Homo sapiens: one gene and its partners. The protein of the gene in region 6 purifies or fractionates together with the protein of the main gene of each other region. This does not show direct contact. Each region holds a gene or a part of one and is shown on either strand. Other genes may lie near its edges.

Region 1 (3,500 bases), on a different chromosome or scaffold from region 6:
CTGATCAAATATATCCAGTTTCTTCCAAATTTATCACAGTAAAAAGTATATGAAACAGATGAGGACAGAAAGGATGCACAGTAATTCTGAAGACAGAAGAGAACCCATTCATAAAACCGCTATGCCCAAGGTTGCATACTTCAAAAATGCTGGATTGGCAACACTACGTTGCAAAATGCTTCTAATATGCTTTTCAAAGGAATCTGGGGTTTCAGCCAGAACACGGAGGGGAGACTCTGCCACTTCAACATCTTCTCGAGTACAAAGCAGGGGAGGAGACGCTGGATGGACTGTACTTCTGCAAAATAAGTAAGTAAATTGAATTCTACCATGGAGTGATTTACTGTATTACAGGAAAGCAGAAACCACATTAATCCAGAACTTTCAGAATATAAAATAAAGTGTAACTTTTGTAAAAGTGCAAGAATGCATGTTTTCCACCTTGAAAAGGTCACTTTGGGAAGCTACACCCTTATTATTCCAATGCCCCTGATTTGTGAAAGCATTTCTGACTGCCATTTCCAGTTCTTTTCTAAAAGATCAAGGCAGCACAAACACCTAGCATGGATTCTTGGCAAAGGACTTGAAAGCCAGTTTATAAGCCGGAGCCACAAACATAAATTACTTATTTGTTAGGTTTAGAGTTGATCAAAACCAATATTAAGCCAAGAAACTGCTGTATATACCATATTGGTTCTATATAATTTCATTTCTAAAAACTATTCAGTCAAGTGCAAATACTCAAACTTCAAAAAGAGCTTAAAAGATCTCACAGACTTCGGCAGCATGGCAAGTGACTTACTCTGAAGGCAACAATTCTAACGTGAATGTTTGGTTGGGCGTGGTGGCTCACGCCTGTAATCCCAGCACTTTGGGAGGCCGAGGCAGGTGGATCACTTGAGGTCAGGCGTTCAAGACAAGCCTGGCCAACGTGGTAAAACTGTCTCTACTAAAAATATAAAAATCAGCTGGGTGTGGTGGCACACATCTGTAATCCCAGCTACTTGGGTGGCTGAGGCATGAGAATCGCCTGAACCCAGGAGGCGGAGGTTGCAGTGAGCTGAGATCACACCACTGCACTCCAGCCTGGGTGACAGAGCAAGACTCTGTCTCAAAAAAAAAAAAAAAAAAAAGTGAAAGTTCATGAAATAGCATAACTTTATAGACAACTTGTATTTCAGGGAGTTGGCAGAAATATGATCTGAAAGTATCCAGATAATTGGCCTGGCACGGTGGCTCATGCCTGTAATCCCAGCACTTTGGGAGGCCGAGGTGGGTGGATCACCTGAGGTCAGGAGTTCAGGACCAGCCTGGCCAACATGGCAAAACCTCATCTCTACTAAAAATATAAAAATTAGCTGGGCATGTGGTGTGCGCCTGTAATCCCAGCTACTAGGGAGGCTGAGGCAGGAGAATCACTTGAACCCGGGAGGCAGAGGTTGCAGTGAGCTGAGATCGTGCCACTGCCCTCCAGCTTGGGCAACACAGCAAACTCCGTCTCAAAAAAAAAAAAAAAAAATATCCAGACAATTAATGTTTATTTTTCCCCTTTGGGATTCATATTTATTCTGAAGTAAGCTAGTGTGACTAGGTTTTATTTTACTAAATGTACTGTGGGTGTTTAAAAAGTATGCTGAGGTAACTTACAGGTAATTTTTTCTCCAGTGATTTTATTATTTTTGTTTGGTCTTGCTAGCTTTTAGTGCCTTCAGTGTAAATAACACAAAATTTATATTTATTTTTACATCCAGATAGTACAACTTAATCAAGCTTCAAAGACTATGGAAGATCCTCTAAGGACAGTAAACTACTGCCAGTATTAGGAATTTATGTCAGCATCCAGAGGTGCAAGCTTTGAACGGACAAGGGGTGGGGGTGTTGTCTAGTGTTTGAAGCTCCAGTGACTTTTGTTTTTGGTACTCATATTCCTACATTTATGTAACTCAGAATGATCTTCCAGGGCTGTTGGAAAAGGAACATAGTGATTACAGCTTAATTATCTGAGTTCCTTAAAGGAGCAAAGACTAAGAGTTCAGCTTTTTTGTTTTTTTTTTTAAAAGACACAGGGTCTTGCTCTGTTACCCAGGCTGTAGTGCAGTGGCATGATCATGGTTCACTGCAGCCTAAAACTCCTGGGCTTAAGCAATCCTCTCACCTGAGCAGCTAGGACTACAGATGTGTACCACCATGCCTGGCTAATTTTTTTGTTTTTTGTAGAGATGGGGGTCTCACTGTTTTGCCCAGGCTGATCTCGAACTCTGGGCCTCCCAAAGCATTGGGATTACAGGCATGAACCACCACTGCACCCAGCCTGAGTTCAGCTTTATTCCAGTTTACATAGTCTACAGTGTCCCTCAGGCTGGCAGAGATGGAGAAATTAAAGAGTATGAGTATGGACTTCTGAGTCAATGAGACCTGCATCTGTATCCCAGCTCTATTTGTTACCTGTGACTTCAGCATTTACTAACCTCTCGATCCCCGTTTCCACTTTTATAAAATGGAAATGACAGTGCCTTCCTTACAGGGCTGCCCTGATGATTCCAGGAGGCAGTGCGGGTACGTGGCTTACTTCTGAGCTTGGCGTATGGTCACAGCTTGATAATTATTACTCATATCGATAATGGAATTTGGTATTCAATTTTAGTATTTTTTCTCCACACTCTGAAGAAAAGCTCCTGACTCTCAGCTAGGTGCAGGGGATGCCAGAAACTATACCTACAATGAAACCTTATAGAGATGATGGCAGGAACAGAAATATCCATCCTTCCAACCCTCAAGTCAGAAGCCAAAGTATAAACCACACATGTATAGCTTCAAGTTGGTTACTGAGTGCATTTTCCCAACTTAGATATTGCAGAATTAACAAGAGCTGTGTGGAGAATATAAAATGGGACGTACAATAACGGCCATATGAGGCATTCATAGGTACTGGTGATGCAGATCATCGTGGGTCCCAGAATGTCAGGTACAATCCAAAATCCTCGAATTGGAGCTGGCTGCCTGGAAAAACACAGTCATAGTTAAATTACAAAGCAGCAAATGCAATGGAACCAAGAGCAAAGACATGACAGGTCCGCGGCCTTCTCAGGCCTGGGCTGAAGTTGCTTGGGACATCCTATCAGTACCATAACCTCAAAAGTGGTGGCTTGGAAACCTTTAATGCAGCTCCACACTAAAGTCTAGAGCCCATGTGACTAAGTCACTCAGGAATCCCTAACTGTAGCGTGCTGCTGACTGTAATCTCAAAAGTTACACGTTACACTGAAGATCTCTCCAACTTGCACATAAGCCCCAGCTATCTTTGTTTGCCTAGCCCAGTGCTAACAAATTAAGTGCTTAGAAACTGTTGAATGAACAGAACTACCGAGTCTCTCTCAATGAGGCCCAATGTCAATGTCACAGGAAATCACTTGGCACGCACAGCGTGTATCTCTCTCAGTCTTCCTTCCCACTTCAGTGAAGACACTGGAAACTGAGACCTCAGATGGGAACTGTCATTC
Region 2 (3,500 bases), about 15 Mb from region 6:
ACAGAAGGCCACTGGTAGCTGCAAAGATGTCACAGGCCTCTACCCACAGCTCCAAAGACAGAAGAGGTGCTGATCCCAAATCACCTGCAGGAGTTTGTTCCAAGCAGCAGCACCTTTCATCTAAATCAGAACCTCTAGAGGGACACACAAATGGTAAGTGTCCCTAGCCCACATCAGAGACACAAAGAACACAGACCACAGAGGCAGGTCCCAATGCACCTGTTCCCATCAACAGTACTTCCCCTCAAGGAAGTACTGCAAAAGAGAGAAGTACGAGCCGGGGCTTTCCTTAAGCTACTAAAAGGCTCATCACCCACTCCTCTTCCACCTCCAGAGGATCTGGGCTTCTCGGCAATCAGGGGACAAGCTGTGCTGCCCTCACTTGGGGATAACCTGCTGCTTCCCCACGTGCTCTACCTCCAGCTCTGAATCTGCTCCAACTTCTGCAGGCAGCCTCACCTCATTGATCTGTCTCCGCTGAGCTGAAATGCGCTTCTGCTTCTGTTTATGCAGGTGCTGCTCCCGCCTCCTCACGTAGTCCTCGGAGGAGTAGGCCAGCGGGTTGTGGAACTCGTCATAGCCCTCGTCCATCATGTACCAATCCCGATCGGCTTGCTGCAGGGCAGGAGGCAAAGCAAGGGAGTGAGGGACAGATCAAGTTTATGCACGAGACATGGCCAACAGAAGAAGGGACGCTTGGTAGGAAGTCACTACTGCAGTGGAGCTACCCTTGTGAGGGGTGCAGGAGAGGCCTCCCTGCAGACACATGCCATCTGGAGGAGAACCACAGTGGGCAACTACACAGGACTGGAGGGCAGCCCATCACGATAGCACTTCTTAGATTTACCACATGGTGGCACCAACACATAACAGAACAGTTAGGTCAGCCTACTGCAGTGAGTGACAGGGTTCACCGTGCCGTCTATGCCTCTGCAAAGAGACTCCAGGGCATTGGGTCTGAACAGGGCTCAGGTGTACCCTCATCAAAGCCCAGTCCTGCTAGAGGGTCACCCATCTACAGACGGCCACCAGCCCCGATCAGCCCCTCAGAGGTATAAAACTTTACCCTCTGGTCATCTTCCCACTGCTGCCGCTCCTCCTCCGTGTCAAATGAAATTCCTTCTTCGCCCTCCTCACGTCTTCCTGGAGGAGCACAGGAAGCAGGTCAGTCCATGCCCTGGCCTGTCCCCAGCGGCCCCAGACAGATCTGCAGGGCCATGCAGCTCCAGAAGGGCAGCCCCTGCTCATCCTCGCTAGGGCAAGCAAGCCTGCTCTTCTGCCTGCTGCCCCACAGGCCTCACCTCGGCCCCTGGACAGACGCGGGGTGGACCCCAAGTGTCTTCTGTCATCGGCCCACTCGTTATATTTGTAGGAGGGAGTTGGCAGAGGCGTGTCATCCGAGTACTTGCCCCTCACAGACCTGGGAACAGCAGCACCAGCATCACAAAACTGTCACTGAGCTAAGCCACGTCCTCCTGGCCACCATCTGCTCTCCCTGCCGAGGCTCCTTACCGCCCACCCAGCGAAACTGGGCTGCTCTGCCCAGAACATCACCTGTCTCGATCTCGAGTGGACAGCCGATGGCTCCGCTCAGAATCCCGATAGGAAGGCGTCGGGGAGGGCGATTCCCACTGTGAGCGCCTTGAGGAGCCATAGCCACTGTCCTCTTCCTCCCAGGTAGACCTTGAAGGGGTGGCTGCATCTGGGCCACAAAAGACACATCCACAGGAAACATCTCACTTAACCATGACATGGTCTAGAACCAGTTGCCAAAAGTCAATTCCCCAAATTTACTCCTTTTACTATTTCTAAACCTTGCATGTATCTATAACGGTTAAGATCGGTTTTGACAGTTTTTAAAGATATCTCAATTTTTAATGGTCCAGGATGTATTTTTCCTTTTTTTCTTTTTTTGAGACAAAGTCTTGCTCTGTCGCCCAGGCTGGAGTACAGTGGTGTGATCTTGGCTCACTGCAACCTCTGCCTCCCGGGTACAAGTGATTCTCCTGCCTCAGCCTACCGAATAGCTGGGATTATAGGTACCCACCACCACCCCAGGCTAATTTTTGTATTTTTAGTAGGGATGGGGTTTCACCATGTTGGCCAGGCTGGTCTCGAACTCCTGACCTCAAGTAATCTGCCTGCCTCAGCCTCCCAAAGTACTGGGATTACAGGTATGAGCCACTGCACCTAGCCAATGGTCCAGTTTGCATTCTGTGTTTATGACAACATTTTAAGGGATATTTACTTTATCTCTACAAACACACCCTTCTTGGATATAAGTAGTTCTTTTTAATAAACACTTCTTCTACCTCCAGCTCCCTATTCTTTCCTACCATTTGGAAAACTGGCCATTCAGCAAACCAGCCTCTCACCTTACAGGAACCATATCCACCCCAAGTGCAGAGCTGTGCCCACCTGACTCAGAACCAACTATCCCAAGATGTTCATGGTAGAATCGGGAATTCTGACTCAATGCCTCAGCAATCTCACTGAAGACGAGAGTCACTCACTCTGCCTTTTATACACTTGAATCCTCACAAGCCACCAAAACAGTGAGTCTACCTTTAGGTCGATGTCGTGGGCTCTCGGGTTCATTTCTTCTGCTGCTACGCTCTGACCCTCCATCTCGCTCTGATCTGCTGCTGTGCCTACTTCTATCCCGCTCATCTATGAAGAGTCACACGAAGCTTAAAAACATGCATCCCATCCTAAGGTATACACATCTTCACCCTAGAGAAAGGACAGGCTGCCCACTCACTCACAGGTGCAACCTGCACTGCTCGAATGTGATCCGTGGACTCCTGAAACTCACCTATCCCCATTCTCCCAAGGGGGAAAAATAGTTACTGCCTAGAAAATTTCAAACCCACAGTAACAGTTATTTTCCAGCAAGAATTCAAAAAATACTAGTGCGAGTTTACAGTGAATCATTTTTTTTAATAGTTACAATTCTATCAGCTATAAAACTTAATACTGAGCAAGGACAGCATTGGATTTTTTTGTCTAGCTTTGTTCCATAGCACTGTCCTTTCTCTATCACCAATACTATTAGAAATGCTGGTCTCTTATACATATTTACCCATTATCTCCTTTATCATCAATTTTCATAATAAAACGAAGACCACACACTCAAGGAGAGCAGCTATGTTACAGGCAACAGCTCTTTTCTTAAACTAGTATTCCCAATCCCAGCAGGGTCAAAACCACTCAGGCGGACATCATGCAAATAGGACTCCCTAACAAATGGGTGTTGCAAAAACTCCTGCAACAAGAAAAAGGCTGACACATTTATTCGAATGCTAATGGACAATAGGAACTGTGCTGGACAGTTTACCTCTGTCCCTCTTGCGGTCATAGTCTCGATCCCGCGATTTCTCCTTCTTCCAATCCTTTTCTTCTTTGGACGAGGCATAGACACCATGTTCCCGCCGCTCCCGCTCTCTCTGCCGACTGCGTTCCCAAAACTCTTCGCTCACACCACCCGGATGGGATGGAGT
Region 3 (3,500 bases), on a different chromosome or scaffold from region 6:
CAATATGCCCCAGTAACAAACCTGCACATGTACCCCCGAATCTAAAATAAAAGTTGTAAAAAACAATGTTTAAAGAACTAAAGACAATCAGAGCTAAAGAAAATCACTGACAAAGTACTAAAGGAAATCAGAAGAAATATGTCTCGACAAATACAGAATACCAATAAAAAGATAACTATAAAAAGGAACCAAGAGAGGCCGGGTACAGTGGCTCACACCTGTAATCCCAGCACTCTGGAGGGCCAAGGTGGGCGGATCACCTGAGGTCAGGAGTTCGAGACCAGCCTGGCCAACATGGCAAAACCCCGTCTCTACTAAAAATACAAAAATTAGCTGGGCTGCTTGTAGCAGCGCATCCCTGTATTCTCAGCTACTTGGGAGGCTGAGGTAGGAGAATCACTTGAACCCAGGAGGTGGAGGGTGCAGTGAGCCGAGATAACACCATTGCACTCCAGCATAGGCGACAAGAGTGAAACCACACCCCCCCCACAAAAAAGGAACTAAGAGAAAAAAATTCTAGAGCTGAGAAGTATAATAACTGAAATTAAAAATTCACCGCAGACTTGAAAAACAAGAATCAGTGAACTTTAAGCTAGGCCAACAGAGATGATCCAGTATGAAGAATATAAAGAAAAAAAGAATAAAGGAAAATAAAGCCTAAGAGATCGTTTAGACAACCATTAAGCATGCCAACAGATGCATAATAAGATTTGCAGAAGGAGAGGAGAAAATGAACAGAAAGAATATTTGAAAAACTATTGGGGAATATAGTCTGTACAAACAAGAACTTTACCTAACTCCTAGTAGGATAAATGAAAGAGATCCCCACCTAGACACATTATTATCAATCGGTAGAAAGACAAATACAAAGAACCATAAAAACAGCAAGAAGTGACTCATAAGCAACAAGGAATACTCAACAAGATTAACAGCCGCTCATCAGAAACCATGGAAGTCAGAAGGCAGTGTGATAACAAAGTGATGAAAGGAAAAAAAAAAATCGTCAAGCAAGAATTCTATAGCTGCCGAAACTATTCTTTAAAAACGAAGATGAAATTAAGACATTACCAGAAAATCAAAAACAGATTATCACTAGTAGATCTGCCCTATAAAAAATGCTATCAGGAATCCTCTAAGATGAAATTAAAGGACACTAGAGAGCACTTAAAGCCATAAATTAAAACACTGGCATATTTTACAGAGGCAAAAATATGATATTGTACTTTTGATTTCTAACTCCTTTTTCTCCCTACATGATTTGAAAGACAAATGTACAAAATAGCAACTGTAAATTTATGTTAATGGGCATTTGACATCAAAACATACACTTTGCAACAATAACATAAATGGTGAGGCACAGAATAGTACAGAGCAGAGATATGTTTACTACTGAAGCTAAACTGGCATTAAACTAGATAAAGTTTAAAGTACTAAATGCAATCCCCAGGTAACCCCTAAGAAAATAAAAATATACAGAAAATGAAAAGAGAAGATGGTACACTGCTATATATCTGCAACACAAGGAAATACAAAGAAAATAAAGATCAAAATAAAAGATATTAAGACAGGTAGAAAACACAAAGCAAAATGGCAGGCCATTCTTATCGGTAGTTTACACATACATATAGTGTGGAATTAAAAGGTACATATTAGCAGAATGGATTAACAAAAAATACAACCAATCTACAATCTGTCTACAAGAAACTCACGTTAGACCTGGTTGTCCAATCTTTTGGCTTCCCTGGGCCACACTGGAAGGAGATGACATGTCTTGGGCCACACATAAAATACACTAATGATAGCTGATAAGATAAAAAAATTTAAAAAAGAACTCATAATGTGTTAAGAAAGTTTACGATTTTGTGTTGGGACACATTCAAAGCCGTTCTGAGCCGCATTCAGACTGCAGGCCATAGTGGACAAGTTTGCTTTAGATCCAAAGACACAAACAGGTTCAAAGTAAAAGAATGGATTAAGATATTACATGCGAATAGTAAGCAAGAGAGAGCTGAAATAATGTATTAGTCTACCAGGGCTGCTCTACCAATCACAACAAACTGGGATGTCTTAAAACAACAGAAATCTATTCTCCCATACTTCTGGAGGATAAAAGTCCAAAATCAACACAATAACAGACCACACTCCCTCTCAGACTCTGAGAAGAATCATTCCTTGCCTCTTCCTAGCTTTTGGTGGTGGTCAACAACTTGGCTTATAGCTGCTAACTTCAATTCTATCTCCATCATCACACGGTGTTTCCTCCTGTCCCATGTGTGATGTCCTTATTCTTATAAGGACATCAGTCATAGTGGATTAGGGCCCATTGTAATACAGAATAACTCCATTATAACTTGATTACATCTGCAAAGATCCTATTTCCAAATAAGTTCATATTTACAGGTATTAAGGGCTAGGACTCAACACATTTTTGGAGGGATAAAATTCAACCCGTAGTAGTCTGTACCTTCTGGTTCCCTAAAATTTATGTCCTTCCAATGTGCAAAATACATTCACCTAATCCCAACCTCCCAGAGTCTTAACCCATTCCAGTATCAAGTCTAAATCCAAACAATACCTAAAAATCATCAACTCAAAAGGGATCAAATCTCATCATCTAGATCAGTTATGAATGAGACTGGGGGTATGGTCCACTCTAGAGCAAAATTCTTCTCCATCTGTGGAGCTGATTCCAAAAAACAATGGTGGGACACTTATAGATTACACATCTCCATATCAAAAGGAAGAAAATAGAAGGGGGGAAAAAGGGTCAGGGGTCCCAAGTTAGTCCAAAACCTAGCGAAAAGCATTAGACTTTAAGCCCTAAGAATAAGCTTTTGTGGATAATGGTTTGTACTCTGAGTCCACTGGGGAAATAGCCCTGCCATCGTGGCCCCAGGAAGTCTAATACACCCAGGACCCAGCATTTGCAGCTCTACCCTCAGCATCATTCTTCTTTAATTCCATTCTGTCTCTGTCCCATTCAGGCCAGCCTGGCAGTGTTTCTGCTGTCACAACATTCTCAAAAACTTTGTCAGTCTTTCATGAAATTCAGGGGGTCGAAGCCACCAAATGAGAGTCCTCCACAGATCTTTCCTGAAAAATTGCATGTCTATTCTGGGAAGTGCTGAGATGGCTGATTCGATCCACAAGTTATATACCAAGTCTCTTTAGAGAATAGCTGTCCAGTCACAGCCTTGGTCCTGTACCACAATACACTATTTGGACAGACTAAAAAATTTTCAAATTATCAAGTGCTGGCTCCTTTTTGCTAAACAATTCATTCCTCAATTTATATCTTTCCTCTCACACATTAGTATATAAGCAAGAAGAAACAAGGCTATACCTTCTACACGTTGTTTGTAAATCTACTCAGATAAATATCCAAGTTCATTGCTTACCCAATGATAGAACACAATTCAGTCAAGTTCTCTGCAACTTTATAACAAGGATCACCTTTTCTCCACTGTCCAATAACATGTTCATCATTTCCTTCTAAGGCC
Region 4 (3,943 bases), on a different chromosome or scaffold from region 6:
GCCTGGACCGCTGGCCTTGCAGAAGGTCCCCCGACAGGGAGACTTCAGTGCTCACCCTCCTCCTCCAAAGTCAGCAGAACCACAGGCAGAAACTCTGGCTACCTGAGCAACAGTCCGGTCTGCTGTGGGACCACCAGGATGCAAAGGGGCGTGGTCCTCCTTCCATCTTGGAGCCTGGGTCTCCCCATCAGCCCCATCTCCCCGCCACAGCGTCTACCTGACTCAAACACCTGCTGGATGAGGATCCCCTCCACGGCCCCTCGGGCTCCCGGGACGTCCCCGGAGGACATGGCCACAGCTCTCTGGACTGAAGCTGACATGGTCTGAATCCCTGGGAAAGGGAACACCCATTGGGGTCACCCGTGGGGAAGACTGTTCCCAAGCACATACTCTATGCCAGAAGCAGGCAGCACTGGGCTGCAGAGCCCTTTCCTTCCAGCCAGGGCAGGCCAAGGAGGGGACCCAGCCCTGCCATGTGCAGACAGCCCACAGGTAAGTGCAGAGACATGAGAATGTGTGTGTTCGTGTGTGCACCCAAGTGTGCGTGTGCTGGGGGGTGGCAGTGTCAGCAGAGCTGGCACAATGGATAGGAAGGCATGACCAATGACCAGACCCACCCCCCCATGACATGGGCCCTGTATTGTGCCGGGAGGGACACAGAGTTCCTAGGCTCTGCCCTCAGGGAGATAGGGGGTCTCTGGAGTCCAGTGCCCTGGGAAGGAAGGAGAAGGGGACAGGAAGGGTTCAGCCTGCATGCAGCTGGGGGCCAGGGATGATTTTCTGGAGGAAGCTATGTCTAGGCTGGTCCTGAAGGATAGGGAGTGGACGGGCAGAGAAGGTGCCTGAGAAGGGGGTCCCAGAACCAGGGTGCAGTGGGGGCAGGGGCGACTGGCAAGATCATGCTTAGACCCAAGGTGTCCCCTTCCTGGGTCTGGTGGTGCAGCTTAGGCCCTTGGAATGACACACCAGGCCAGCACGTCCCCAGCCCCTAGGACAGGGTCTCAGAGGGCAGGCCCTGCTCTGACCCCTGACCCCTTGCCCCTGGCCAGGGAGAAGGGAGGCGCTCCCACTGGGCCCCGCTCACCGTTCCCGAGTGGAAGGCGCTGCTGCTCTGCGCTGCTCTCCGGCTTCTTGGGGGGCTTGGCCTTCAGTTGAGAGCCTGAATGGGGGAGCTGGGGGCAGCCTGGCCTCCCCTCTCAGTGGGGGTGAGTGCCGGTGGGCAGGGGCCCGCGGTGGGAGGGCGTGGAGGGGGCGGTCCAGTGCTGGGTAGTCCCTTTGCCGGGCTCTGGTTTCTCATCAGTAAAAGGGAAATGAGACCCGCCCGCCTACTTCACCAGCTCCGGGGAGCTCAGCCTTCAGGCAGGAGGGAGCTGAGAGGCTGGTCCAGTGTGTGGGTCTAGTACCCAGAGGAGACCCCCACAGCCCCAGGCAGGCTGGCCCCACACCCAGTGGGTGGGAGCCCGGGTGGGGAGGGGGCGTGGGCTCCCGGGGAAGCCCGGGAAGACTGGAGACCCTGGCTGGCTTCCCCTGCAGGGAGGGTACCTGGGCTGGCGGTGCCCCTTGGAGTCAGGGCTGCTGGCGCGGCAGCTCGAGCCTCTTCTGAGGCCTTCCTCTTGGTGGGGAGTCTGGGTGGCGGTACCAAAGCCTTGGGGACGGCCGGGGGCTTCCTCCCCTTCCGGGGCTGGCTGAGGTCCACATCTGCAGCTCAGGGGCAGGAGCAGGGTCCCAACCTCAGGGTTTTCTCCAGGGGTAGGGTGGGCCCCAGAACTGGACACCTTGGCCAGACAGGTGAGGCCTGGCCCCTTTGCCTCTTAGGATCCAAGACGGTCCTGGAACATCACCCACGGGCTCCTCAAACACCACTCCGGTTCCAGTCCAGCTGGGCTGAGCAGGTGACAGCAGCTGCCCCAGGCCCCCAGCATGGCTGAGTCCACCAGGACCCACCTTTGGGGAAGCTGTCCAGGATGGGCTGCAGCCGGCCATAGCGCTCCAGGTTGTAGTCCTTGAACAGCACCCTCCAGAAGTCCAGGATGGCTGTGGAGTCCTGGGTCAGCAGCCAGGACAGGAGGGCGTGGAAGGCCTGGGGGCAGCCCTCCTTTTCCTTCAGATGAAGCGTCTCCTGCAGTGGGGTGGCATGAGGGTCCCTGCCATGGTCCCCCACACCCTGCGGCCTGCCCATCTCCATCATGACTAGAGGGTGGAGCTCCCAGGCAGAGGCGCTGGCGACCTGGACAGCTCCACGCCCATCTCCTCGGCTTGTGGTGGAGTCAGGTGGTGGTGTAGGGGTGTTGAGGGTGGGGCTGGGGGAACCTGGAGGCCATTCCCTTGGCTTGGGGGTGAGGTGTGGGGACGGCTGGGGGAAGGGGACCAACTTCTAACTTGTCATCAGGGACGCCCCTGGCTCCTTGTGGGGAGGGAGTTGGGGAAGGCTGGAGGGGCTTGGGGATCTGGAGGGGCGGGGTCCTCCTGGAACTTCCCCGGGGACTATCCCTGGCTCACAGGGCCTGGGGGCAGCGGGGGGCGGGCGGGGAGCCCACCTGAAACTTGTCCTCGGGGACCACGTCGTGGTCAGCCAGCGCGTGCAGCAGTGGGAAGGCGCTGTCCACGGCCACCGCGATCTCCGTGCGGTGCAGCCTCAGAAGCCGGCGTAGCGCCGCGTCCGTCGCCATGGGGTGGGCGCGGGGACCCGGGGCTGGGGCGGACGCGGTGGGTCCCGGGACACTGGCAGCCCCTCGCTTGGCCTCGGGTCCCGGCGGGGCTGTGGGGCCTCCGCGCCGGCTGTGCGCCCGCCCGTCTCCCCGGTCTGCGAGCCACGCGCGCCGCTGTTATACCCCCGCGACCACGCAAAGAGCAAAGGCCGCTCCGCCCCGGCGCCCAATCAGGGCCAGGGCCTCCCGCAGGGACACTTCCCTGTGATGGAGGCGCTGCTGTCCCTCCCTCGCTCTCGGGAAGTCTCCGGGCCTGGCCTGACTCACCCACCAGGGCAGCTGCCTTGGGGGCTGGGGACAGAGACTCGCTCTGTGCGGGACTCAGAGAACTCTCACTTCCGAATGTGGCCCTGTCCTGCCTCGGCGAGGGCCCTGCTCGAATGGGGCAAAGCCGAGACAGGTGCCCTCGGCGGGGAGGCTCGGGTCTCAGGGCCCTGGCAGGGGCTGCCCAGGGTGCACCGGCCCCTCCCAGTGGCCGGCAAGAGCCTCCATGGAGGCTGGATCGGGGTGGTGTTCCTGGGGGACCTCCACACAAGCTGAGAGCCCCTACTCAGGGGCCCGCCTGGGGCTGTGGGAGGAGCCCGATGGAGGCTCAGTCTGATGCAGGAGACGGTACGGCAGCCTGGGTGTTGCCAGGGAGCTCCTGACCTCACCATCTTAGGCTAGCTGTGTGACGCCAGGCAAGTCCTTTCCTTCTCTGAGCCTCGGTTCCCTCATCTTTAAAAGGGGCACACTCGCCTGGGGATTGAGGCTCGCATTGACCCCCTCCTTCCTTCCTCCAGGTGCTTTAGAAGGAAGGCGGCCAGCCCCACAACGGGGGTCCTGAGTGTGGCCCTGAGTGAGAGCTCCCAAAGGGTCTTCCTAGGACCAGTGACAGAGGCTGAGGGATGCTGTGGCCTGGACAGGAGCTTCCGGGGGCATCTGGGAAGGTGTCCGGGAGGGGAGCTGCAGTGGACAGGAGCCGAGGGTCCCAGGTGGACGTGAGTGGGGACAGTGCCCCCAGTAAAACAAGACCAGGTGCAGAGGCCTGGGGCCTGCAATGATGCTGAGGCTGTGGTGGCCCCGCAGGCATGGCCTGGAGGGGGGGTGGCCTCAGTGGGAGGCCTTGGTAACAGTCCCCTTGTCTGTGCGGTCAAGCCAGGGAAGCAGGCCCTGTGTGCAGGCTGCAGAGAACCACGAGAGGTCTCTGGGCACGAGTGTTCCCACTGAGCCAGAGAACGAGATGACCTGGCCAG
Region 5 (3,582 bases), on a different chromosome or scaffold from region 6:
GCCTCACACTTTTCTAAGTCTGGCTGCCCCGCCACAAACAAGGACTTCTGGCCCCCAGCAATTCCCAGTCCAAACAGGAAGGAGGGCCTGGCAGTCTCCGGGGGTTGCAGTTGTGGCCTCAGCTGTCAGAAGTGAACCTAACCTTCCTGTGCCAGGACCTGGGTCAAGATTGGAGATGATCCCATATGCACTTCTGTATTCAGCTGTGCGGTCTTCTGACAGAGGCGGTATGTAAAGCCAAAAAGCCCCCTAGCTACTTGTCCAGGACGCCTGCTCCTGGAGTTTCTCCAAGTTAACTCTTGTCAGCAAAGCTACATGAAATTCTGTGGCACCCTGTGGCTCTGCGTCTGTCACTCACTCACACACACGTGCTCTCTCCTGACATACCTCTGGTAACTATGGAGCTAGTCCTCAAGGTGGAATTTTACTCTCATGATAAAGACAGTCTCTTCCCCCTTCTTTTCCATCTTCCTCCCATTCCCATGAGTCCTCCACACAGGTTTGTTCCTTTAAAGGTTTATTTCTGGCAAATAAAAAAAAATAACTTATGTGGTTAGATAAATTAATGTATGTGATTAGATACGACACAGGGCAGAGCTGAACGTTCCTGTTTTCTTCTGGATCTTGAAGGTTGGTGAGAGGCCGCTGAATGAGACCCAGCCTCGTGTTTTGTGGGATGAAGAGATGCAGACAAAGTGACTCAGGTACACTGATGCTCCCTGGAGGGCTGGGAGGTGGGCTCAGAGGAAGAGGCCGAATCCAAACCTTTTTTATTGAAAAGAAATAGCTCTTGTTTGTAGCATTTAAAAGAATCAACCCAAACTCTGCACACACTCATCCGTAGTGACCATAAACATGACATACCAAGCAGAGGCTCAGAAAGATGGAGCAACAGACTGAGGACATTTTCAACATGGTACTTGGGGATACCTTTGGGAAAGATGCCTTCCCCAGCAGAGGCCAGCACTGTGGAGAGATAGGACCAGAGCCACTACTGGCACAGTTGTCAAGATCTTTTGCTTTCTGAACTCTGGGGACCGCTGCCTTTTAGCCTGAGGGGAATGTCTCCAAATTTCTTGGGTTGGTAAGTCTCAGAAGCAGCCAGCCCCTTGGTCAACAGAGGGTACCTTTCCTCCAGGAATCTGAGAATGGAACATGCTGATAGTCTGTGCTGAGATCTTAAGGCCAGCATCCCAGAGGCCTTTCCAGAGCCCAGAACCTCAAAGCTGGGAGAGAAGATTCTGGGGACTATCTGCCAGGGAGGAAACCAAGGCTCCTCGGGGGTCAGCGTGTGAGTTCCCCAGGAGCAGAGACCATGGCTTGCTCACCACTTTTGACCTGTGTCTGGTTCCTTGATGAGGTTTTGGCCTTGGCATCACTTTGGAGGTGGGGTTTACTCTCTTAGGCTATGGTGAATTTTGGTTATAATTTTTTGATAAATTAGGAACAGGCTTTAGTTGCCTGTAAACACACTGACTAAGACAGCCAGAAAGCAAGCAGGTGAGAATCAGAAGAAGCTCGAAGGGTTTTCCCTGATAAAAGCATATGCCGTGAGGCTACAGGCAGCTCATTTCTTAAGGCCCGTGCATAGACTGCAGGCTGGGCAGCTGCCTCTGCAGCCGACCTGGAGGGACTGTGTTGACCGACTGCAGGGCCAACCAGGAATTGAGGAACCTGCCTGCACAGATGGCCAGGGCCACAGCTGGCTGGACACTGGCAAAACTTAAACAAGGGCTGTTCATTGAACTAAATATGACCTCAGCATCCCTATCTAAAGACTCCTGAAAGGCCCAAGTAAAATCTAAATTTTCAAATCACTGGGCAGTTCTGAAATCCAGTTCAGGTTCCCCTTTTGGCCATCGGGAACAGCAATTTCTGGCACAAAAATCAGCCCAAGGATTCAAAGCCCTCGAGGAGTAGAGGGGTGTGAGAAGAACCACATGTCAACACACCGGCTCTCTCTTCACAGAGATACACTTCTATGCTCCAGACCTGGGGCCGTTTTTACTCTGACACCACTCTCTTATTAGGTGTTCTGAAAGTTCACACTCCCAAATGAACTCATGCCTGTGTTATTTTCCTTTGAAGGACCAGAAGGCCCCCTCAGTACCATCTGAGGACACCGCAGTAGTGCCTATTAAATAACATCCAGACAAGGCATGGCCCTTCAACTATCTTATGAAATGAGAAACCACCACACCGGCCACGAAGCCGTTCACATACACATGTGCAGGGTGGATGAGGAAAGGACAGATGAGAAACTGGGACCATACCAGGTGATAACTGAGAACCAAACTCCCCAAAGCTCCCAGCACTGGACGACTCCAGAAAGGTGAGTATTTATATAGCTCCTACAAAAATAAACTTTCGATGCCTGTTCTTTAGAGTTATAAAGGAAAGGCCTTTGCATTTGGTTTGTCTCTGGAGGCTTTTCTGGTATCAAATGCAGTAAAGGTTTTAAATGACTCTGAGGCAAGGTGGAAGAACTGGCTGCCTGCCCCTGCCTTGGTCCTGGGTTTTCAGGATGGGATGGGGCACAGGCAGAAGAGGGCAGCTGCCCTGGGCACAGCATAGAAGAGCAGAGGGTGGGGTGGGCTGGGCCACAGAGGGGATCCCCAGAGTCCTGTTACAGGAGGCCATGAACACATTGTGACTCTGAGCATTGGGGTCTGACTCCTGAGTGTCTCTGGAAGCACGTGTGCCCCTCCTCTCAGTGTCCGGCCAAGGCAGGCATGAGGTGTTGGATCAGCTCCACTCAAAGAGGGCGAGCCAAGAGTGTGCCAGCTTTTCCCCAACAGGCTAGGGCTCCAGCAGCTCCCCTCCTCTTCAGAACTGGTGCCCACACACTGTCAGTGTCCTACACATACTCTCACTTGCTTTTCCTTTACAGCGTCTTTTCTCTAACTTTACTGGTCTGAAAAAAAAAAATTCTAATACGTGCAGCACTTATAAGTAACTTATAAATATGGGAAGCTGTCAGAAGTTTATGTATTTTAAAACCATGACATGGGCTAGAGTCTGGTGAAACAAGATCGGGCAAGGTCGAAAGGTGACATCTTCGGAGGACCAAAGCACCAACTTTCCCCCGTCAGTGGAACTTTGAAACTATAGTGTGGATGGAGTCCAAGACATGATAGCACACCAGAGAGAGAGAGAGAGAGAGAGGCGGAGGGTGAGTGCCTTTAACTGTTACCAGTTTTGAAAATCATGTACTTCCATTAACTTTTACCTTCCCCACTATGAATTCTTTCAAACACTCCTGCTCCCTGGCATTAGATTCTGTCCCACGAGCCATTCATCTTCCATGCACTGCCTTGGCTAAAGGTGCAGATTAAGGGTAAATTCAAGCCCTTCCCTTCCTATGGGAGGGCTCTGAAAAGGGGAAAGAAAAGAGGGGAAAAATATGAAATTCTGGAAGTGTGACATCCAGAAAATGAAAACATCTTATGTCTTATGTGATAATAAGTAAAACTATCTTGTTAAAGGTTCACATTGATTTTAGGATGCATTTAGATTTTCTGGATATTAAGACAGAAAAAAAGGCGTTTTGGGTTGGAGGACAGGGGACAGGTTTGTAAGCAG
Region 6 (3,500 bases):
TGCTCCAGGCAGGCCTGGTTGCACCACTCCTCACCATTGCCAGGTGGAGAGCCACACAGTCACCCAAAAGGAGCTGATGGCACTGAAACATCAAGTGTGAGAAAAAAACCCAAGCAATGCTGCTCAGGTCAGGTGGTTACTGTTCCTGCTCCTTTATGCTGTTTTTCCCTTAGTCAGGGGCAGTGAGCCAAAAGCATGCTGACATCTGGTTAGCATTAGGCTTAGACTGGCCAGCAGAGTGGCTGCCATTAAATAATTTGAACTTGAATGTCAGGAGGTACAGGTGCACACGCTACTTCTCCACAGTCCCTACCACTCCTCACTCTCTCAAACTCACCGGGCTGTTTCCACTAGATCTGCATGACCCTACCAGAGTCCTTGGGAGTGTCTATAAGGCCAGGCCCTCGTGTACCACTTTAATCCCTGATGCAATGAAGGATGCATTCAAGGAAAGGCCAGAAATAACAAAGGAGCAAGTGGCTAAGGGTAGAAGCCACAGCAGGTATAAAGGGAAGGTCAGCAAGGGGCAAGACCTTCTGAACTGTGTGTACCACAGCAGTCAACATCCCTCTTCATGTGCAGAACTGGCCTTACTTCTTTCTCTAAAATAGAAACTTTTTTTTTTTTTTTTTGAGACAAAGTCTCCCTCTATCGCCCAGGCTGGAGTGAAGTGGCGCAATCTCGGCTCACTGCAACCTTTGCTTCCCGGGTTCAAGCGATTCTCGTGCCTCAGCCTCTGGAATAGCTGGGACTACAGGTATGCGTCACCACGCCCGGCTAATTTTTGTATTTTTTAGTAGAGATGGGATTTTACCATGTTGGCCAGGCTGGTCTCGAACTCCTGACCTCAGGTGATCAGTCCGCCTCAGCCTCCCAAAATGTTGGGATTATAGGTGTGAGCCACCGCACCTGGCTGGAGACATTTTATAAAAGGCATCTGCTCAATGAGGAAGAATTGTAAACTGAAAGACCACTAGTGACATCCCAGAGCCAGGCAGCTGGTTCTAGAGTCTATAGTGTCGACAGCTGAGTTGAGTGTTTATAGTTCTAGAGAAGAATTTACCTGGGCCACACACTGGAATGACTGGGGGAGGTCTGGGCTGCAGCAATCAGGGAAAACAGAATCTCTGGGGTGTAGGCATGAGGGTTTTTAGAAACTTTTCTAGAGATGCCAGTATGCAGCCCAGCTGAGCACCCTAGGCTAGATGCTGGCAATATGCTAGAAACCCAACAGACAGTGGCTCTGGGGCTTATGGGGTGATAGCTTACTCCGCGGTCACTGCACTTGCGTCTTTAGACAAAATGGATTGGCTGGGCACGGTGGCTCACGCCTGTAATCCCAGCATTTTGGGAGGCCGAGGCGGGCAGATCACGAGGTCAGAAGATCGAGACCATCCTGGCTAACACGGTGAAACCCCATCTCTACTAAATATACAAAAAATTAGCTGGGCGTGTTGGCGGGCACCTGTAGTCCCAGCTACTCGTGAGGCTGAGGCAGGAGAATGGTGTGAACCCGGGAGGTAGAGCTTGCAGTGAGCCAAGATCACACCACTGCACTCCAGCCTGGGTGACAGAGTGAGACTCCTCCGTTTCAAAAACAAAAAAATCCCAAAACAGATAAGGGAGGGCAAAGGTGGCAGTGAATCATGATGTGTTTCACGTACCCAATGGAACTACTTAAAGATGATCAGAGTTAAGCACTAAAATACCCTCTAGCACAAGCGGATAATAGAAGAATTAAACCAGACTTCACAGATCAACCAGAAACCTGTTTCTCCCAAGAACATGTCAATCACTGAAGTGACTGTATTTTCTCAATTAGGAATTCAGACAATAATCTGATGGGGATGTATGCACTCACAGAAAAGCCAGGCCAAGGTATCTGAAAGGGAACCACTCTGGAAAACTCAGTCTGGATAGTTACTGTAACTAGAATTCTTAAAGCTGTTAGGTACAGGAAAAGAAAAAGCTTTTGGTGGAAGTGGGGAAAAAGGAATTCCACAACTCAGGAAGAAGGAACTTACTTCATCACTGAAATTTCTGAAGGCAGCCACTCTCTCTTCCACACTTTCCTGATTCAGGGGCACCAGCTTCAAGCGCTCAATGATCTGTTTAAAACAACCACCGGCCCCATGTAACACAACCATCACAGTCATTTCATCTCTCTACATGTAAAGTCAGCACCTCACATACTCCAAAGGGCTTCTTCATAGAAAACGCCATTCCTCCTTGTACACACAAAGGCTTTGATTCTAACTAGCTAACTTAATTCTTATCATCATTTCCTGACACAATTTTTAAAATTCTGAGATTGCAAATTACTTTGAGAAACTTCTCTGTTTTCAGATTAAAGGGGAAAGGAATAGGCAAAAAAAAAAAAAAAAAAAAAAAAAAAGCCACACAGGAAACTCCTTTTAAGTCCCAGGATTGTACTTGTCTTTCTTTATACAACAAACATACTGGCAACAGCTCCTTTGTTTTAAGTAAATTCCATGAAGTGTTTTGAATTTTCGAGGGTGTACATTAACCTGCACTTCAAACACCTTTCCTGAAACTTACATCAAAAGCTCTATCAATATGACCACTATGATACTCGTCAAAAAAGGTGATCAAGTCCAAAAGAAGATAGAACGTGGAGTCCACAAATTTATTTGCGCTTATTCCTTGAGCCCTATACCTGAAAGACAAAAACGGGGTGGGGGTAGTAAGAGTGTATCAGGAATTTCTGTGTAATCCGTAACAGTGGAATAGCATTTAAAAAAACAGTGGGGTGTGGTCGCTCATGCCTGTAATCTCAGCTACATGGGAGGCTGGGGCGGAAGGATTGCTTGAGGCCAGGAGTCAGTGACCAGCCTGGACACACAGCGAGACCCCATCTCCACAAAATATTAAAATATTAACTGAGTGTGGTGGTACATGCCTGTAGTCCTAGTTACTCAGGAGGCTGAGGTGGGAGGATTGCTTGAGCCCAGGAGTTCAAGGTTACAGTGAGCTATGACTGCACTACTGCACTCCACTCCAGCCTGGGTGATACAGGGAGACCCTGTCTTAACATACAAAAAAAATGTATAAAAAGCATCAAAACCTTCTGAGCTCTCTGGGTGAAGTTAATTAAAGAGTGTAAAATGGTGTTTATTTTGAAACAGCCAAGCACTGATAGTGGATTTGGTATGAATCCACCTACAGGTACTCCACCACATGAAGCATGGTTCTCCAGCCTTGATCATCATCTCAGCATCCAATCTTCATGAAAGGTGGGAGGTCGTGATGGGCAAAAAGCCGAGCAGCCCTCACTGGGGATTGTTTGCTAGGTGGAGATATCTCATTTACCAAAGAATGTTCTTTTTTGTTACCCCGGGAAGGCACCCCAAACCCAGTTTTCTCTGGGTCATTTTACTAGGAATATCTACAGAGAGCGCAAAAAGTAATGTTGTTAGCTTCAGCCTGGGACTTAAACTAGTTAGAAGTCTGATAATTCAGTTAACTCACTGGGGATCCAG
Region 7 (3,500 bases), on a different chromosome or scaffold from region 6:
TGTGGCCAAAACTTTTTTTTTTTTTGAGACAGTCTCGCTCTGTGGCCCAGGCTGGAGTGCAGTGGCGCGATCCTGGTTCACTACAACCTCTGCCTCCTGGGTTCAAGTGATTCTCCTGCCTCACGCTCCCAAGTAACTGGGATTACAGGCATGCACCACCATGCCTGGCTCATTTTTATGTGTTTAGTAGGGACAGGTTTTGCCATGTTGGTCAGGCTGGTCTTGAACTCCTGGCTTCAGGTGATCCAGCCACCTCCACCTCTCAAAGTGCTGGGATTGCAGGCATGAGCCACTGTGCCCAGCCACTTCTTATTTTTATCCTGAGTTTAGGGATGTGTTAAATTGTATTAATTCTCCATTATCTCTGTGTGTGTGTGTGTGTGTGTGTGTGTGTGTGTGTGTCCTTTTACAAATTATAAATGGCCGCTCTTTGAGGAAGTCGCGGTGGTAGGTGCTGCGGCTCTGTGATCCGCAGGCTCCTGCTCCTTACTCACTACTGTTCGCTCTCGCCGAGGAACAAGTCGGTCAGGAAGCCGTGCAGCAGCTATGGCTTTGAAGGTTACCGGAAAAACACGCGTGGAGCTGGAGGTGGCAGTTCACCGAAATTGAATCACTCTAACGAGCCGCAACATAAAATCCCTGGAAAAGGTGTGTGCTGACTTCATCAGAGGAGCAGAGGCAAAGAATCTCCAAGTGAAAGGACCAGTTCGAATACCTACCAAGACTTTGAGAATCACTACAGAAAAAGTCCTTGTGGTGAAGGTTCTAAGACGTGGGATCCTTTCCAGATGAGAATCCACAAGCGACTCATTGACTTGCACAGTCCTTCTGAGATTGTTAAGCAGATTGCTTCCATCAGTTTGAGCCGGGAGTTGAGGTGAAAGTCACCATTGCAGATGCTTAAGTCAACTATTTTAATAAATTGATTACCAGTTGTTAAAAAAAAATTATAAATGGCAGACTTGATCCCATTCATCATTAGACTACTTTCATGTTTTGCTCAGAATTAAGTAAGTTTTAATATTCATTTAAAAATACTTATCAAATAAATTTGGTTTCTCTCAAAGTAAGTTGTGTAAGATATTCTGATTTTAGCAAATTATTTCATAATTTGTGCCTTTCTGTTAATAAACAGAAGAAGCAGGGATGAGGTGGTGGGGAATTTGCAGTGTTTATTTAATCTTACCAGTTTAGAGGCTGGACAAAGAGCAAGAATTAAAAGTTATGCTTAGAATGTTTGTCCAAAATTAAGGTGATCTTTTCAGTGTAAGAACATGAGTTGTGAGGGCACAGCAAGCAGAAACTACACCAGACTGATTTTTTTTTTTTTTTTTTTTTGAGATGGAGCTCTGTCACCCAGGCTAGAGTGTAGTAGTGCGATCCCAGCTCACTGCAACCTCTGCCTCCTGGGTTCAAGTGATTCTCCTGCTTCAGCCTCCTGAGTAGCTGGGACTACAGGTGCCCGCCACCACGCCCAGCTAATTTTTTTGCATTCTTAGTAGAGATGGGGTTTCGCCATGTTGGCCAGGCTGGTCTCAAAAACTCCTGACCTCAAGTGATCTGCCTGCCCCGGCCTCCCAAAGTGCTGGGATTACAGGCATGAGCCACCACATCCAGCCCAAACTGATTTTAAGAAAGAAGAGCATGAGGGCAAAACTTGACAGCAGACAGACCAGGCTTCAGCCTCCTGTAGTTGAACAAGGATTGCTTGAAGAGCAACATGAAGTATATAATGTATATATGGCTCATGTAAGCAAGAGTTCCTCCAGAAAGCTTTCGTAGTGGAGGTTGAGTCTGTATTTAATTTTAGACTCTAAGCTTTATTCTCCAGTATTTGTACATGTTTATCTTAATCATTTTCTGAATAGTAGGATTATACAGTTTTTTCCCTTTGGTTTTTCTTATATTTTTTCACATTTCATTTTCTATGTTAATTGTGCATTTCTTTGATAATCACCAAAAAACTATTTAAAACTAGATTTCTAAAGAGGCTTTTTAAAAGGAAAATTGAATTTCTGCTTGTATTTATGTACTCTTATTTTTATAGACAGGGTCTCACTCTGTCACCCAGGCTGGAGTGCAGTGGCTTGTTCTCTGCTGACTGCAACCTCTACCTCCCAGACTCAGGCGATCCTCCCATTTCAGCCTCTCAAGTTGCTGGGGACTACAGGCATGTGCCACCACACCCAGCTAAAAATTTTTTGTATTTTTAGTAGAGACAGAGTTTCATTATGTTGCCCAGGCTGGTCTCAAACTCCTGGGCTCAAGCAATCCACCTGACTCAGCCTCCCCAAGTGCTGGGATTACAGGCGTGAGCCACCAAGCTCAGCCTATTTATTTATTCTTAATCTTGAATTACCTCTTAAATGAATGTTACTATCATCTACCCAAGTCACTCAGATCAGAAACCAAGGAGGCATCCTAGACCTTAGCCTCTGACACTTTCTTTGATACCAAGTTATATTGAGTCTGTTTATCCCCTTTTATATTCAACCTTGCTTTTCTGTTCTCATTGCTAGTTTTAATCACGCCAAACTGCTTTTACATCTCTGAAGATGTGAAAGGTTGTTTTACATTTATGCTTTTTCTTCGTCCTCCTGCCTCTGAGTCGAATATACCATCCCCATCTTCCTTCCCTTGCCTGCTCACTGTACCCGTCATTAGTCTGCTCTTTAAGCATCAAATGCTCTGTGGAAAATTTCCTTCTTTCTGTCTCTCAAGTTAAATTAACCACTTCAATCTCCTTACCCTGCACGTACACTTTGTAGATTTTATGCCACAGTACTCATAACACTTTTTGCAGTTACTGCCTAGCCTACAAGATGGTAAACTCTTTGAGGACAGGGTTTCTTACTTTATTTTATCACCAGCAATTGGTGGGTAATAGCAAATATGTAGTAAATGTTTGTGGAATTAATAGTTTTCCTCAACTTACTATAGGACCATGTTCTGCTCTAAAACTTTGAAGTTAAAGCCTAGTCTGTGATAGCTTAGTACAGTGGTGGGCAATCTACAGCCTGTCCTCTCTATCTTTGTAAATAAGGTTTTACTGGTATACAGCCATGTTCATTTGTTTACATTCTGTTGTCTGTAGCTGCTTTCACACAACTGTGGCAGAGTTGAGTGATGGTCACAGAGAACATATAACTTCAAAACCTAAAGTATTGGGCTGGGTATGGTGGCTCATACTGCAATCCAAGCACTTTCGGAGGATTGTCTGAGTCCCAGAGGTTGAGGCTGATCATGCCACTGCACTCCAGCCTGGGTGAAACAGCAAGACCCTGTCTCAGAAAAAAACAAAACCCAAAACCTGAAGAACTTATTATCTGTCTAGCCCTTTACAGAAAAAAATTTACTGATCTTTATTCCAGTGTATGAAGATGGAAGTCTTATCAGATGATGATCTCTGTTTTTGAAAATACATTTAGAACCAGTATAATACAAATTTCCAGCCTCGCCAACATGGTGAAACCTGGTCTCTATTAAAAATACAAATTAGT

What was found.
Region 1: the proteins of NUP93 (region 6) and NUP88 fractionate together in Homo sapiens (co-fractionation; one large-scale study listed by BioGRID). This does not show direct contact.
Region 2: the proteins of NUP93 (region 6) and DHX38 fractionate together in Homo sapiens (co-fractionation; one large-scale study listed by BioGRID). This does not show direct contact.
Region 3: the proteins of NUP93 (region 6) and ZFP91 fractionate together in Homo sapiens (co-fractionation; one large-scale study listed by BioGRID). This does not show direct contact.
Region 4: the proteins of NUP93 (region 6) and AIRE purify together in Homo sapiens (affinity purification with western blotting; one study listed by BioGRID and IntAct). This does not show direct contact.
Region 5: the proteins of NUP93 (region 6) and TLN2 fractionate together in Homo sapiens (co-fractionation; one large-scale study listed by BioGRID). This does not show direct contact.
Region 7: the proteins of NUP93 (region 6) and RSF1 fractionate together in Homo sapiens (co-fractionation; one large-scale study listed by BioGRID). This does not show direct contact.

The regions. Positions count from the first base shown.
Region 1 is NC_000017.11:5,388,663-5,392,162, forward strand, and holds part of NUP88 (nuclear pore complex protein Nup88), read right to left. Parts: intron 3,001-3,500; coding exon 2,899-3,000; intron 299-2,898; coding exon 140-298; intron 1-139. UniProt on the Homo sapiens protein: Component of nuclear pore complex.
Region 2 is NC_000016.10:72,096,847-72,100,346, reverse strand, and holds part of DHX38 (pre-mRNA-splicing factor ATP-dependent RNA helicase PRP16), read right to left. Parts: coding exon 3,338-3,500; intron 2,671-3,337; coding exon 2,566-2,670; intron 1,703-2,565; coding exon 1,555-1,702; intron 1,421-1,554; coding exon 1,302-1,420; intron 1,144-1,301; coding exon 1,067-1,143; intron 616-1,066; coding exon 460-615; intron 1-459. UniProt on the Homo sapiens protein: Probable ATP-binding RNA helicase. Involved in pre-mRNA splicing as component of the spliceosome.
Region 3 is NC_000011.10:58,603,063-58,606,562, reverse strand, and holds part of ZFP91 (E3 ubiquitin-protein ligase ZFP91), read right to left. Parts: intron 1-3,500. UniProt on the Homo sapiens protein: Atypical E3 ubiquitin-protein ligase that mediates 'Lys-63'-linked ubiquitination of MAP3K14/NIK, leading to stabilize and activate MAP3K14/NIK. It thereby acts as an activator of the non-canonical NF-kappa-B2/NFKB2 pathway.
Region 4 is NC_000021.9:44,284,733-44,288,675, reverse strand, and holds the start of AIRE (autoimmune regulator), read right to left. Parts: upstream 2,801-3,943; 5' UTR 2,670-2,800; coding exon 2,538-2,669; intron 2,120-2,537; coding exon 1,945-2,119; intron 1,699-1,944; coding exon 1,543-1,698; intron 1,160-1,542; coding exon 1,085-1,159; intron 332-1,084; coding exon 218-331; intron 1-217. UniProt on the Homo sapiens protein: Transcription factor playing an essential role to promote self-tolerance in the thymus by regulating the expression of a wide array of self-antigens that have the commonality of being tissue-restricted in their expression pattern in the periphery, called tissue restricted antigens (TRA).
Region 5 is NC_000015.10:62,841,550-62,845,131, reverse strand, and holds the end of TLN2 (talin-2), read right to left. Parts: 3' UTR 501-3,582; downstream 1-500. UniProt on the Homo sapiens protein: As a major component of focal adhesion plaques that links integrin to the actin cytoskeleton, may play an important role in cell adhesion. Recruits PIP5K1C to focal adhesion plaques and strongly activates its kinase activity.
Region 6 is NC_000016.10:56,838,129-56,841,628, reverse strand, and holds part of NUP93 (nuclear pore complex protein Nup93), read right to left. Parts: intron 2,678-3,500; coding exon 2,560-2,677; intron 2,109-2,559; coding exon 2,025-2,108; intron 1-2,024. UniProt on the Homo sapiens protein: Plays a role in the nuclear pore complex (NPC) assembly and/or maintenance. May anchor nucleoporins, but not NUP153 and TPR, to the NPC. During renal development, regulates podocyte migration and proliferation through SMAD4 signaling.
Region 7 is NC_000011.10:77,810,723-77,814,222, reverse strand, and holds part of RSF1 (remodeling and spacing factor 1), read left to right. Parts: intron 1-3,500. UniProt on the Homo sapiens protein: Regulatory subunit of the ATP-dependent RSF-1 and RSF-5 ISWI chromatin-remodeling complexes, which form ordered nucleosome arrays on chromatin and facilitate access to DNA during DNA-templated processes such as DNA replication, transcription, and repair.